Regions from separate parts of the Homo sapiens genome. Here all the other regions are reported to be linked to region 3. The links are microRNA targets in miRTarBase. Many come from high-throughput screens and were not tested one by one. Region 3 holds a microRNA gene; each other region holds the end of a gene's coding sequence.
Evidence for each region. Region 3 holds the annotated microRNA hsa-miR-628-5p (AUGCUGACAUAUUUACUAGAGG, at 2,327-2,348, opposite strand). A microRNA usually pairs through its seed, bases 2 to 8, with sites in the 3' UTR of a target mRNA and lowers its output. Matches are read on the target gene's strand: a 7mer-m8 pairs with bases 2 to 8, a 7mer-A1 pairs with bases 2 to 7 and ends in A, and an 8mer does both.

Region 1: the mRNA of GBP6 is a reported target of hsa-miR-628-5p. Seed matches in the 3' UTR shown: 7mer-A1 at 390-396 and 7mer-A1 at 2,537-2,543.
Region 2: miRTarBase lists UBXN2B as a target of hsa-miR-628-5p. Seed matches in the 3' UTR shown: 8mer at 3,664-3,671, 7mer-m8 at 3,349-3,355 and 7mer-A1 at 1,548-1,554.

Annotation. Positions count from the first base shown.
Region 1 is chr1:89,385,145-89,390,144 of GRCh38, forward strand. GBP6 (guanylate binding protein family member 6) reads left to right here. Exons shown (of 11, transcript NM_198460.3): 11 at 86-3,016. The coding sequence ends at 325. Among named protein-coding and RNA genes, the nearest start is that of GBP6, 24 kb to the left of the region's middle.
Region 2 is chr8:58,446,834-58,451,833 of GRCh38, reverse strand. It overlaps UBXN2B (UBX domain protein 2B), which reads right to left. Exons shown (of 8, transcript NM_001077619.2): 8 at 333-4,445. The coding sequence ends at 4,283. Among named protein-coding and RNA genes, the nearest start is that of UBXN2B, 38 kb to the right of the region's middle.
Region 3 is chr15:55,370,665-55,375,664 of GRCh38, forward strand. MIR628 (microRNA 628) reads right to left here and starts at 2,370; the gene lies at 2,276-2,370. It overlaps CCPG1 (cell cycle progression 1), which reads right to left. Exons shown (of 9, transcript NM_001204450.2): 6 at 1,129-1,380. DNAAF4-CCPG1 (DNAAF4-CCPG1 readthrough (NMD candidate)) reads right to left here. Exons shown (of 16, transcript NR_037923.1): 13 at 1,129-1,380.

The sequences.
Region 1 (5,000 bases), not on the chromosome of region 3:
TTCACACAGGTTTTAAATACAAAATGTAAGTCTTAAAAGAATAGGGATTTTTAAAAATTTACTTTCCTTCCTACATTGTCTTTAGGTCCAAAATGATTGGCTTCATGAAGGATTTAAGAAGAAGTATGAGGAGATGAATGCAGAGATAAGTCAATTTAAACGTATGATTGATACTACAAAAAATGATGATACTCCCTGGATTGCACGAACCTTGGACAACCTTGCCGATGAGCTAACTGCAATATTGTCTGCTCCTGCTAAATTAATTGGTCATGGTGTCAAAGGTGTGAGCTCACTCTTTAAAAAGCATAAGCTCCCCTTTTAAGGATATTATAGATTGTACATATATGCTTTGGACTATTTTTGATCTGTATGTTTTTCATTTTCATTCAGCAAGTTTTTTTTTTTTTTCAGAGTCTTACTCTGTTGCCCAGGCTGGAGTACAGTGGTGCAATCTCAGCTCACTGCAACCTCTGCCTCCTGGGTTCAAGAGATTCACCTGCCTCAGCCCCCTAGTAGCTGGGATTATAGGTGTACACCACCACACCCAGCTAATTTTTGTATTTTTAGTAGAGATGGGGTTTCACTATGTTGGCCAGGCTGGTCTCGAACTCTTGACCTCAAATGATCCACCCGCCTCGGCCTCCCAAAGTGCTGGGTTTACAGGCATGAGCCACCATGCCCAGCCCTCATTTAGCAAAGTTTTAAACATAAAAAGTGCTTATTAGAGGATATCAGTGCCTGGCCCACATGAGAGAACAGATCCATACACACTTTGAAAAACTTTGTTCACTTTTAGGAAATATAATTTTGAAAAATCATTTACATACAAGAGGTCCACTGAGGCATTGCTTTTAATGGCAAAATATTGCAATGTACTTGAATGTCCTTCACATTAGATTGGTAAGATAAATTTTAGTATGTGCATGTACTGGAATATTATATAGCCAGTAAACAAATTGACAATGAAGCTCTATTTGTACCAGTAAAGAATGGTCTTGAAGAGACATTGTAAAATGAAAAAAAAAAAAACCAAGTTGTAAAGCAATGTAGATTATCTTATCAGCATGGAAAAAATGCAATTATTATATGGAAGCATGCAAATATATCTCTGGAAAGATTAATCAAAATCTATTATTATTGGCTCCTTCTGGGAAGAACCAAGTGAATGTAGGGGTTGAAGGAACACATACTCTTCACTTTATACTCTTGAATTTTGTAAAGAAATCTTATTTTACCGATTCAGAAATAAATAAGAAAATGTAAGAGACAATGCTAATAATGATAACAATAAAAAAATAGTGAAATTGGCTATCAGATGATGAAATTCCTTGTTGCTTCTAGGAATTACATCAGCCAGCCCAATGAGGGGTCTAAGACTAAGATCTGAGTACTAGAATGCAAAAAATTTGCATCATATTCTTGTTTTCATTTTGGCCTGGTTTTTCGATCCCTTCTATTTGTTTCGAGACTAAGGCATACACTTTTCTGTGGCCTTTGAAATCTCAGCTACAGTAGCCTCTACTTCCTTTCTCTGAATTCAAGTTTTAAGGTGTTAGAAGCATAAATTACCAAACATTAAGATTAAGCACTGATAGGAAGGATCCTGCCAACCTTGTCAGTAGTGGTCTTTTTGCGGTAGCCTCAGATAGAAAGGACAATGTGCCTTTCCAGAACTGAACCCCCTGATGGGGGATGATAGACCCAGACACATAGAGGCCTGGTGTTGACCCTTAATTGTTAGAATCTAAGAAGATTCAGTTATAGTAATGAGTGGCAGACTGCAAGGCCTGATGGAGATAATTCTGAAGATGGTCAATACAATGGACCAGCCATAGGGTTAAATGGGATGGGGAGAAAACAATCAAGTGAAGTAAATGCTGTCTATCAGGATGTTGAGAGGTAGCCCTGATAAAGTGTCACATCCATAGCCTTGATCTGAGCTAATTTCAGACCCTGAACTCAGTTGGAGTGGAGGGCAGTACCCCAGGAAAGGACACTGCAACTCCAGGACCCAAATAAATGATAATGATTTCCCAAGTTCTCCTCCTAGGAAACGTCTGGAGCCATTTACTAGATATCCATATACTAGGGAAATACAAACACCCAAATATTTCAAGGACCCTTGGAATCAGGATCCAAGTTGCCCATGGTACCTAGATCATGGAGAGTCATCGTAAAATGCCTGTTAAAATAGGGAATTAGGGCCTCCAGGTTGTAATTATAGTCTTGGCACACATGAACTTATTGCAATATAGTATTTGTTTGAAATGTAAAGGTAAAGTTTGTTTGAAGACAGATACCTTATTTTTCTGTACATCTCCTTGGGAGTATGTTCAGGCATAGGTTGTGCTAAATAAGCTTCTTTTATAAAAACAATAGGCTGATGCATGGGTGATTATTTTCAATTGATAAAATATCATGAACTTTCCAGAGATCAGTGGTAATAAGTTGTTTGAATTTTCGACACCAGATTAAGGTCTCTGAGGTGGTTTAAAGGCTATGAGGCCAGGTGCAGTGGCTCACGCCTATAATCTCAGCAACTTGGGAGGCCGAAGCAGGCAGATCACTTGAGGTCAGAAGTTTGAGACCAGCCTGGCCAACATGGCGAAACCCTGCCTTTACTAAAAATACAAAAATTAACCAAGTGTGGTGGCACACGCCTGTCATGCCAGCTACACAGGAGGATGAGGCAGGAAAATCACTTGAACCTGGGAGGTGGAGGTTGCAGTGAGCCGAGATTGTGCCATTGCACTCCAGCCCGGGCAACAGAGCCTGGGCGACAGAGTGAGGCTCTGTCTCAAAAAATTAAACTAAATTAAAGCTATGAGAAGAAAATAAATTTTCCTGGTATAGTGTCCTTCTCTAGACCTCATGTCCTACAGTCTCTGTGAAACTGGGCCAAAGATAGAATTTTTTTTTCTGTGCTTTATACAGTGACTCAGACAAACCTATGACCTCACACAAATCTGTAACTTCATGTATCACAGTCTCTATAAAACTATATCAAAGAAAGAATTTTTCTCTGTGCTTTATAGAGTGGTTCACCCAGATCTGTAAAGAAATGAAGACAATTTTAGAGCTTTCAATATCCTGTATTGCATATCAGGTCAAATCTGATACTTTCAAAACTGGATAGATCTATTTCAGATATCTTTGATGCTTTTAACAAGAATCCCATTCAATGTTATCTAAGGACTATAGTTCAAGAAGACTAAGACACTATTCAGTCGGGGCACAATAAGACCACCTTATAAGCACCACTCATCCTTCCTTTTCTGAGCATGCTTTTGCCATGTTTCAATGATTCAGAGACATTCTAGTGAATCCCATTTTGACAACAAAGTGGGATCAAGAGACCCCAAGGCCATCCTCAGGTTCAATGACTCTTTAGAAGACATGGAACTCAGAAAAAAAATTTTTTTGGGGGGTTTTCTTCTTTTTTCTTTTATTTTATTTATTTTTCTTTTATTATTATACTTTAAGTTTTAGGGTACATGTGCACATTGTGCAGGTTAGTTACATATGTATACATGTGCCATGCTGGTGCGCTGCACCCACTAACTCGTCATCTAGCATTCGGTATATCTCCCAGTGCTATCCCTCCCCCCTCCCCCCACCCCACAACAGTCCCCAGAGTGTGATGTTCCCCTTCCTGTGTCCATGTGTTCTCATTGTTCAGTTCCCACCTATGAGTGAGAATATGCAGTGTTTGGTTTTTTGTTCTTGCAACAGTTTACTGAGAATGATGATTTCCAATTTCATCCATGTCCCTACAAAGGACATGAACTCATCATTTTTTATGGCTGCATAGTATTCCATGGTGTATATGTGCCACATTTTCTTAATCCAGTCTATCATTGTTGGACATTTGGGTTGGTTCCAAGTCTTTGCTATTGTGAATAGTGCCACAATAAACATACGTGTGCATGTGTCTTTATAGCAGCATGATTTATAATCCTCTGGGTATATACCCAGTAATGGGATGGCTGGGTCAAATGGTATTTCTAGTTCCAGATCCCTGAGGAATCGCCACACTGACTTCCACAATGGTTGAACTAGTTTACAGTCCCACCAATAGTGTAAAAGTGTTCCTATTTCTCCACATCCTCTCCAGCACCTGTTGTTTCCTGACTTTTTAATGATTGCCATTCTAACTGGTGTGAGATGGTATCTCATTGTGATTTTGATTTGCATTTCTCTGATGGCCGGTGATGGTGCGCATTTTTTCATGTGTTTTGTGGCTGCATAAATGTCTTCTTTTGAGAAGTGTCTGTTCATGTCCTTTGCCCACTTTTTGATGGGGTTGTTTTTTTCTTGTAAATTTGTTTGAGTTTATTGTAGATTCTGGATATTAGCCCTTTGTCAGATGAGTAGGTTGCGAAAGTTTTCTCCCATTTTGTAGGTTGCCTGTTCACTCTGATGGTAGTTTCTTTTGCTGTACAGAAGCTCTTTAATTAGATCCCATTTGTCAATTTTGTCTTTTGTTGCCATTGCTTTTGGTGTTTTAGACATGAAGTCCTTGCCCATGCCTATGTCCTGAATGGTATTGCCTAGGTTTTCTTCTAGGGTTTTTATGGTTTTAGGTCTAACATTTAAGTCTTTAAGCCATCTTGAATTGATTTTTGTATAAGGTGTAAGGAAGGGATCCAGTTTCAGCATTCTACATATGGCTAGCCAGTTTTCCCAGCACCATTTATTAAATAGGGAATCCTTTCCCCATTGCTTGTTTTTGTCAGGTTTGTCAAAGATCAGATAGTTGTAGATATGCGGCGTTACTTCAGAGGGCTCTGTTCTGTTCCACTGATCTATATCTCTGTTTTGGTACCAGTACCATGCTATTTTGGTTACTGTAGCCTTGTAGTATAGTTTGAAGTCAGGTAGTGTGATGCCTCCAGCTTTGTTCTTTTGGCTTAGGATTGACCTGGTGATGCGGGCTCTTTTTTGGTTCCATATGAACTTTAAAGTAGTTTTTTCCAATTCTGTAAAGAAAGGCATTG
Region 2 (5,000 bases), not on the chromosome of region 3:
GAGGCAGGTTTGCACTAAGCAGTTTCCAGCTTGACTTTTCCCTTTAGCTTAGTGATTCTGGGGTCCCAAGATTTGCTTTCCTTTCACAGTTGTGACAAGGTTTTCAGAAATCCATTGTGGCAAAAAAGAAGCACCTGAACCTTTTTATTTGGGTAGAATAAAAACAGAAACAGTAACAGGATATTCAGATAATATGCTACAACCAGTTCCTTCCCTGTCCCTGACAAAGGTGCGCCAAGGGAAATTAAACCACAGGAAATGTTATTCATGTTAAAACAATCTATTCAGGACTCAAAACTACAAATCAAAGAAAATTTGAAAAACCTTTCCAATAAGTTTCAGTGAAAACATTCTTTATTAGTAAGCAGACATTTCAAACTTTTTGATTACATACATCATGCAAAATGACTGACCTCACAGATGGTTGTCTGTTCATTGTGACATCTTTTTTGAGATGATTATAAATTTAAGATGACTGCAGTAGTAAAAATAATTCATGAAAATGACTCTCAATGAAGCAAAACACTACATAGCACACATGAAATACTGTTCATCCCTCCTGGATGTTTAATTCTCTCCTAATGTAAATCTCTATCTTGGAAGACTATTATATACAAAAATGGCAGTTGTTTTTGTATGTGCATCTATAGGCACTCAACTGATAAAAACAAGAAAATTTCAAATAATTTTACAAGGATTGGTTATTTTTCCTGTTTTGTTAATCCAAAACAGGACAATGCCCTTTGATTTACAATGTTCAATTCTTTTAAGAAATCATTTTCTTCGGAAGATGATTTTGACCCATGAAAAAGTTGTTTTACCCCTGGTAATCTTTTTGAAATGGGGCTGGCTGTTACACATTATCCAAGTTGTTTTCAGTAAGTGAAAAGGAGTAGGGCTTATTTTGAGAATTCCTCTATATTACGGCACTGAGAAAACTTCTCTGCAGTGGTGGGCTCACCACTTTCATCCTGTGGTAGTTCTGGTAGCACTCCCAGTGTGAAAACCCTAGCACAGGTAAATTCACCTCTTTGAAATAAACAGTGACCCTGGAGAAAGGTGAATTCCAAATCTAGTACCATATTCAAGTCATCTGGCAGAGAAGCAGGCATAAAAGAGTTTTCTAGGTACTTGAGGTGCTGCTGTAACAAATACCTAAAAGTAGAAAAGTGGCTCTGGAATTGGGCAGTAGGTGGAGGCTGGAAGAATTCTGAGGAGCATGCCAGAAAAGAAGCTAAACTGCCTTAAACAGACTGTTAGTAGAAATATGGAATGTTAATGCTAGGGCGGCCTTGAAGAAAGGAGCATAATAGAGAATACCTCGATTGCCATAGAATATCTAAATCATCATGAATAGACTGTTGGTAAAAAATGAGGAATATGTTACTGGAGAAGTGGAGGAAAGGAGTCCTTGTTACATAGTGGCGAAAAGCTAAGCTGAGTTGTGTCCTGCCGTTATGTGTAAAGCAGAACTTTTAAGTGATGACTTCAATATTTAGCTGAGGATATTTCCAAGCAAGCTGTGGAAGGTACAGCCTGCTGTCTTCTTGCTGATTATAGTAAAATGTGGAAAGAGGTAGATTGAGGGAAGACCTGTTAAATATAAAGAAACCAGGACTTGATGATTTGGGAAATTCGCGGCCTATTCAAATGGCAAAAGCCACTAAAACTAAGATTCACCGTCAGGACAGCCTTTACTCTAGAGAAAGTGATGAAGATATGGCTGTATAACCTTTTGCTAATACTTCAGAAACATCAAAAGGTCTGAATATCAGGTCACACACAAGACTCTTTGAAGATATTAAGGGTGTGAATCATAGATCCTCTCAGCTATTTCAGAAAAAGCCAAAAACAGAGACAGGATTTTCCAGGAAAGATACGTGAGGAGCCTCCTATCTAAATGAGTGCATCCCTGTGACATATGTAAAAGACCCACAAGTTTCTTGACAACGTTATAGCAGCAGAAGCACCACCATTTTTAACAGAAAGCTTTAGAGAATATAAAAGAAGAACAAACTGATAAGTTGATACTCAGCTGCAAACGTGTGCTACCTTTTGTGAAAAAGTAAAGATGACTCTGAGACAGTCAACAAGCCCAGAGAACAGCAGTGAGCTGAAGATTACTCCCAGGCCTTGAAACTTAAAGAAGGGTGCCTCGCTGGTTTTGTAAATTGATTGGTGCTGATGGCTCCTTTTTCCATCTGTTTCTGCTTTTTGAACAGGAACGTGTGTAACTATTATTGTCTGCCTGTCATGCCATCATACTTGGGAACAGATAACTTGTTTTCTAGGTTCACAAGTGCACAGTTGGAATTATGTCCCAGAAATCACACACAGATCCTCTCCCAAACTTAATTTAGATGGCTTCAATGTGAGATTTGAGACTTTTGAGTTGGTGAGACTCAGATAAGATTTTGGATTTAGAGTTGATGCTGTAATAATGGATTGTGACTTTTGAGCACCTATGAGTGATGTAAATTTATTTGTGATGAATCTGAATCTTTAACACAGGAGTGGAGCGGGGGGTGGGTGGGAACTGTAGTAGGCAAGAATAATGTTCCATGTAAAATGTTAATGTCCTAATCTCCAAACCTGTATGTAACCTTAGATGGTAAAAGAGATTTTGCAGATGTAATTAAGGTTACTATGGATTTCAAGACAAGGAGATAAGCCTAGATTGGATATCCGGTGGGCCTCATTTAATCATGAGTCCTGCAGAGAACCTCTCCACACTGGTGTCAGAGAGATGTGGTAACAGAAGGGTCATAGAGATGAAACAGCACTGGTTTTTAAGATGGAAGAAGGAGGTCACAAGCCAAGGAATGAGGATGTCCTGTAGAAGGTGGAATGACAAGGAAATGATTCTCCTGTAGAGCCTCCTAACAGAATGCAACCCTGCCAACAAATTGATCTTGGCACCGCGAAACTCTTAACCTGGACTCCTAACCTACAGAATTGTGAAGATAATAAATTTGTGCTATTTTAAGCCACATTTTGTAACTTGTTATGGTGGCAATGGAAAACTAACCAGAAGTAATAATTAAGGATGAAATGGTGTCTAGGAAGAAGGAAAAGCTTCTGGCTTCAGCAGAAATGCAAACATTTATGCTGGTAATTCTTTAGATCTAGTCCGTCTGACAGAATTTACATTCCTGTATTTCTACACTAGTCTTGTTCTGGAGAAGACATTCTAGGTTGAGCACACAGAATAGTGTTTAGTGTATACAGTGAGTTTCCTAGAAAAATGTGTTGAATGAATAAATGAATGTGATCAACGCAAGCTCTGGGAGGAACTGTAATTACTTGATTTTAAAATATTGTTGCTGTTTACCATATCTTCTTAAGAACTGCTGACCTTTAGGCTGGGCGTGGTGGCTCATGCCTGTAATCCCAGCACTTTGGGAGGCTGAGGTGGGTGGATCACCTGAGGTTCGGAGTTCGAGACCAGCCTGATCAACACAGAGAAACGCTGTCTCTAGCAAAAGTACAAAAATTAGCCAGGCATGGTGGCGCATGCCTGTAATCCCAGCTACTTGGGAGGCTAAGGCAGGAGAATCTTTTGAACCTGGGAGGCGGAGGTTGCGGTGAGCAGAAATTATGCCATTGCACTCCAGCCTGGGCAACAAGAGCAAAACTCCATATCAAAAAAAAAAAAAAAAAGAATTGCTGACCTTTATGTGTTTCTGTTTAAGTTCACAACAGTCATAATTCTGTAAAATACAAGGCAAAACTGTAGTTTCTGATACTAGTAATATATCTAAATCAGTAAGTAAAAAGGATGTGTAAAATCTTAATAGGAGAAATAATTATTGTATGATCAAACAATTTCAAAATCAAAAGACACGTTTCAGTATATATTATAGACAAATTTTCAACTTATTTGATCAAAAGATTTCTTAATGGCTGTTGGTCAATGCTGCATCAAGAAACTTTAGTGCAAATTTTACCAAATGCATTTATCAAAAAGGGGTTTTGTTCATTTTTCTCTGCAAACAAATGTTGTTACATTAACACTAAGCATGTAACAACTCATTTGCCTAGAAATCCAAAAACTATCAACATAAGCCAGTCCTTCAACTAAAAACTCAAACATACTTATCTCAAGGTCTATTCCTAATCCAAATTTGTCTATATTCAGATTGGAAGACAGAATAACAATAAAACCAAAATTTATCTGTAAAAATAATAAAAATAATTTGGCTGTTTTTAATGCTGAAGTATTGTCCTTATTAATACGGCACATCATCTATTCCCACATGCTACTGCATGGACAGGAACAATATTATTTTAGTTGCTGGAGTAACACAGTGTTAAGAATATCTGCTTCTAGCAGTGTCAGGCTTTCATCTGTTAGCTCTTTATTCGGAAATGAAGTCACAAGAATAAAGTCAAGAGCCGCAAATTCAGGACGAGACTGTACAATAAAGTTCCGGACATCCAGGATCCTGAAGAAATAAGACAAAAATAATTTGTAATATAAAAAATCATATTTTCATGTAAACTTAAAACTGAATCATAATAAAAATCACAAAATTTTAATCTTTATATAAAGGTGTTGTAACTTTCTTTAATATATAGTATTTCAATTGAAGGATTTATCTTAGGCTTCAGTTAAAATGTAAAGTAACTTTAGTGTGTACTTAACATTTACTTTTCCTGTAAAATGGAAACAATCTTCAGGTAAGTTATGAATAAAGTAAGTGTACTAATGTTGTTATTTTAAAAGTGCAGGTCCAGCTGGGCACGGTGGCTTACGCCTGTAATTCCAGCACTTTGGGAGGCAGAGGTGGGCAGATCACTTGAGGCCAGGAGTTCAAGATTAGCCTGGCTAACACGGTGAAAACCCCGTCTCTACTAAAACCAGAAAAAATTAGCTGGGCATGGTGGTGGCTGTCTGTAATCCCAGCTACTCAAGAGGCTGAGCATGAGAATTGCTTGAATCTGGAAGGCGGAGTTTGTAGTGGGCTGAGATTCCGCCACTGCACTCCAGCCTGGGAGAC
Region 3 (5,000 bases):
AGGAGATTGAGACCAGCCTGGCCAAGATGGTGAAACCCCGTCTCTACTAAAAATACAAAAAAATTAGCTGGGCGTGGTGGCAGGCGCCTGTAGTCCCAGCTACTCAGGAGGCTGAGGCAGGAGAATCACTTGAACCCAGAGGCAGAGGCTGCATTGAGCCAAGGTCGCACCACTGGACTCCAGCCTGGGCGACAGAGTGAGACTCCGTCTCAAAAAAAAAGAAAAAAAAAAAAAAAAAGACTTCGAGACCAGCCTGGCCAACATGGCAAAACCCCGTCTCTACTACAAATATAAAAAAATTAGCCAGGCATGGTGGCGGGCGCCTGTTATCCCAGTTACTCCGGAGGCTGAGGTAGGAGAATTGCTAGAACCCTGGGAGTGGAGTTTGCATTGAGCTGAGATTGTGCCACTGCACTCCAGCCTGGGCGACAGAGTGGGACTCCGTCTCCAAAAAACAAAGGAGAGAGTCAATGGGTGAGGCTCCTAAATGAAAAAGTAAAGTAACACCAATAGAATACCTTCCTCTTCTCACCCAAAAGGCATTTAAAAGCTTTGAATTGATAAGATAATCAACATATATAAACAGTATCAATCATAATAAAGAGCAAAGTATAAGAACAAAGATGACAAACTCTCAATTCATGTGAATCACAGAAGCAACAATGAAAGTTACAAAGTATGATACTTACATGAAACCTCAAAGTAGAAATAATGAACACTTATTATTTACACATTTCAAATGTAACTATTTCAACTGGGATTTAAATAATCTTCCTAATAAAGTCACACTTCAACTTAGTTTAAGTGTGATTCTAAATGTAAATGATTTGCCTCATGGTGAGCATTTCAGATTTTTAATCTTCCAATCTTTTAACTTTAAAAGAGTCACAAACATATATGGTTATTATCCTTACATTTCTTAATAACTACTACCTTATTTAAATAAAAAGCTTTGTGAGATAGGCAGCACCCACTTCCCGAATGAGAAAACTGAGGCTCAAACAGGCTTCAAGTTTTCAAGGCCACACATTTAATAATGGCACTGAAAACAGATCCCAAGAGTCCTCACTCTTAAGTTCCTCTACACTATCCCATCAGGTTATGTATAACACATTTTTGAGTACTTACCATAGAAATGGCCAAATCCCATGCTGATTGCAATCACCAAAGCAAGTATAACACACTTATTGAGACCACTACTGAACTGACGTTTACTCAACTCCTTAGAAGGTTCAGTTTCTTGTTCAGCAACTAGCCGGTCTTCAGATTCTGAAGCAGAAACGGTCTTCTTCCTAGCACGGCGTCGTCTAAAGGCAGGACTGGGCTGATTACTGGTTTCATCACTACTTGATTCATCGTCACTAGGCTGAGATGAAAATACTATTAAGAAAAAAGTTGACATTTAGCTATTCAAAATCTTGGAAAAGCTTTCCCAGTAAAAATTATTTAGAATAATCAATGCCATCCCTTACATGCCTTTCTACATAAGATAGCCAAAAACAAAAACCAAACAACATAAACAAAAACACGGGTTTTCAACTCATCAACATAAAGCCAAAACATAAAGCATTTCAAATGTGATACACAAGAATCTGTTAATCATACTATTTGGTGCTTTGAGAGCCTATCTCTGTTTTTTTATTTAATCCTCCTCGCCTTATAGTTTACACTCTTAGAACAATCCTTCATTCGCATAGCCTCAAGTTTCATTGCTGGCCAGGAGCAGTGGCTCACGCCTGTAATCCCAGCACTTTGGGAGGCCGAGGCGGGCAGATCACCTGAGGTCAGGAGTTCGAGATCAGCCTGGCCAACATGGCGAAACCCCTTCTCTACTAAAAATACAAAAATTAGCCGGGCATGGTAGTGCACCTATAGTCCCAGCTACTTGGGAGGCTGAGGCAGGAGAATCACTTGAACCTGGGAGGTGGAGGTTGCAGTGAGCTGAGATCCTGCCACTATACTCCAGACTGGGAGACAGAGCAAAACTCTGTCTCAAAAGAAACAAAATTTCATTGCTATTACAGGTATAAACAAGTATTATTTCTGGAAAGAAAAAAAATACTCTCTGTCTCTTCATTCAGTTTCAAAGAGGTAATTTAAGTGCAACTATTTAAGGAACACAGGAAAGTACACAAGCATTTCCTGTGACTTATAAAGTAAAATAACTACCAAAAGTTTCCTTGGGTGTATCTGGTCTCTAGTTTCATTTCCAACCTAATTAGCCCATGATCAAGGTTCAAAGCACTGTATTTTAACATAGGTTTCCAGAAGTCAGATGAGCCCTTCCCTTCGACTGCCACTCTTACTAGAAGGTTATTAATTTTACCCTCTAGTAAATATGTCAGCATGAGGAAGTGACACAACAGCTATCTCCGATATTAAGGACTATTCTGGTGCTGCTCCTTTATGAAAATAATAGTAGAGAAAAACAAACTAGTGGGGAAAATTTGCACAAGAAATCCCAAGTCCAGGAAACAAATTCCCTGGAAAAAATCACCTTCAGTTTTTTCCAAATGCATAATTTCTTAACACTGTTTCTTATGTCAACAAACTATTATGTTGACACAGAAGCTTCAATTACTCAGAAATAATTTCCACAAGCTACTTAGAGGAAAAGCACTAAAAATAAGGATAAAATATGAACTCGAATACAAAGAGCTCTAAAACAACAAACATTCATGCTCCAGAAAAGCAAAAACAGTTCTTCAGAAGACAGGATATCCATGCCACAGGAAAGCTGGTGATTTAGGTTAGGCAATATTTTTCAGAGATGGATCATGGAGTATTCAGTTCACTTTCACACTTACAACAATAAACACAAAGACAGAAGGCACTACTGAAATGAATGAATATTCCTAATATTTAGTGATACAGATGCCACTGAGAGATCTTTTTGGTCATGACCCTTATGCCCATCATGTTTATCTGGTTATTCTTGATCACTAGTTTTTCAAAGATGCCGTCGCCTCAGGTGTGAGATTATATTTCTTGGACAAAGAGAAAGAAAGGAAGACTTAAACAAAGCATTACATAATACAAAGGCATTCATGATCATGGTTAGAGTATTTAAGTCAGGCTTTCTGACATAAAATTAAGATAGGTAAATGTAAAAACAAACCATTTGTAAAACTTATTTAAATAATTGTTCAATTCTACATTAACATTACCTTCATTATATATTCTAACAAAACAGCCTAACCCACATTAATATATTCATGTCCTTATCTAATGCTTCCAACTTTTTTAACCCATACATATAATAGCTGAAATATTTTGATTTTTAACTTCTTTTAAAAAAGCTTAATTTGGCCCATAGATGCAAGCAATGCAAAGGCATGCAATAAGCTTGGCCAGCTCCTTTACAAGAGATTCTGAACACCTGTTTAGAGTATTGCGGATGACAACAGGTATCTTTAAAGCACTCGGTAAATAGTAAATGTGACTAGGCACACTCAGCTCTAGAGAAGCTGGTCAGATTTAGTCACACCACCTTGGAAAGCGAGTTGGCTAGGAACATGGTGTTTCAGCTGATCATCCCATCCCCATATGCACTCAGGAATCTTCCACAGCTTCTCCCACCACCTTTCTTTTGTGAATAAACAGGAAAAAAAGAGGCATAAAGCTATATTATAAAGACTAAAAAGAAAAAAAAGAATTAAAAATACTTAATTATCACTTAACATTGTTATCCGTACAAAATTAAAACGTAATAACCATGCCTTCTTAAAAACACACAATACAAACTTCTCTACACTACCAACTTTGCTTTTTGTCAGGGAAGAGAGTTCATAAAGAGGAAGCAGGCAGTGTTCTTAACCCAACAAAACGTACACTGCCACAAGAATATAAGTCAGGAGAAGAAAAAATTGAAGTTGAAATCCTTAAGGATGAAGAAAGGGAAAGGAAAAAACAAAATTAAGCAATGGCTAGCACAAAATTAACAAACTAAAAGGGAAAAACAAAAACCATCTTTTTTATTTTTTTGAGACGGGGTCTCCCTCTATTGCCCAGGCTGGAGTGCAGTGGCGCAATCTTGGCTCACTGCAACCTCCGCCTCCTGGGTTCAAGAGATTCTCCTGCCTCAGCCTCCAGAGTAGCTGGGATTACAGGCCTGCGCTACCACAGGCAGCTAATCCCAAGTAGCTGGGATTACAGGCACCTGGCTAAATTTTGTATTTTCAGTAGAGAAGGGTTTTTGCCGTGTTGGTCAGGCTGGTCTCAAACTCCTTACCTCAGGTAATCTGCCTGCCTCAGTCTCCCAAAGTGCAGGGATTACAGGCATGAGCCAAAGTGCCCGGCCCCAAAACAAAAACTTTTGGCAACTGGTTTATATGCAGTGTTTTCAGTATAGTCCAAAATTTCGTCTTTAAACATTTGGTTTATTGAAACAATATCTTTAGGAGGAATAACAATGGGTAAAAATACAGTTAATCAAATATTCCTCTTAGTCCACAAAAATCTCAAGAAGTCAGAATTCAGAAAGAAGATAAATATTAGAAGAATGGTCTTAGAACTATACAACTTCCTGAAAAAAGTTAATATGTAATTTCTTTCTTTTTTTGAGATGGTGCTGGGATTACAGGCGTGAGCCACCACGCCCAGCAACAGTATGTAGTTCCTTTTACGTCTATGTCAGTTTCTTATATATCTGACCATTCTATAATACTCTGGCTTCAATTTGACTTTTCTGGGCCATGAATATTCTCTAATTAAACCAGAGGCAGGAAAGGAAGCGGGGGTGGGGAAACTACCTGAATACAACACAAATCCTGGAGTTTAAAAAAATAATAATAAAATTTGATGACTAACAAGGATTCTAAAATCAATTACAATACCCCTCCATAAATAAAGATACTATGAATGCTATTCTAACAAAGCCTGAAGTTTTCCTCTGAACATCAAGAATGTCACATGAATATTCAAATAGCTGGAAAAAGTGTTTTCACGTTCATGTTTATAGGCAAACCACTGATATACTAACTGAAAATAACTTCTCATTA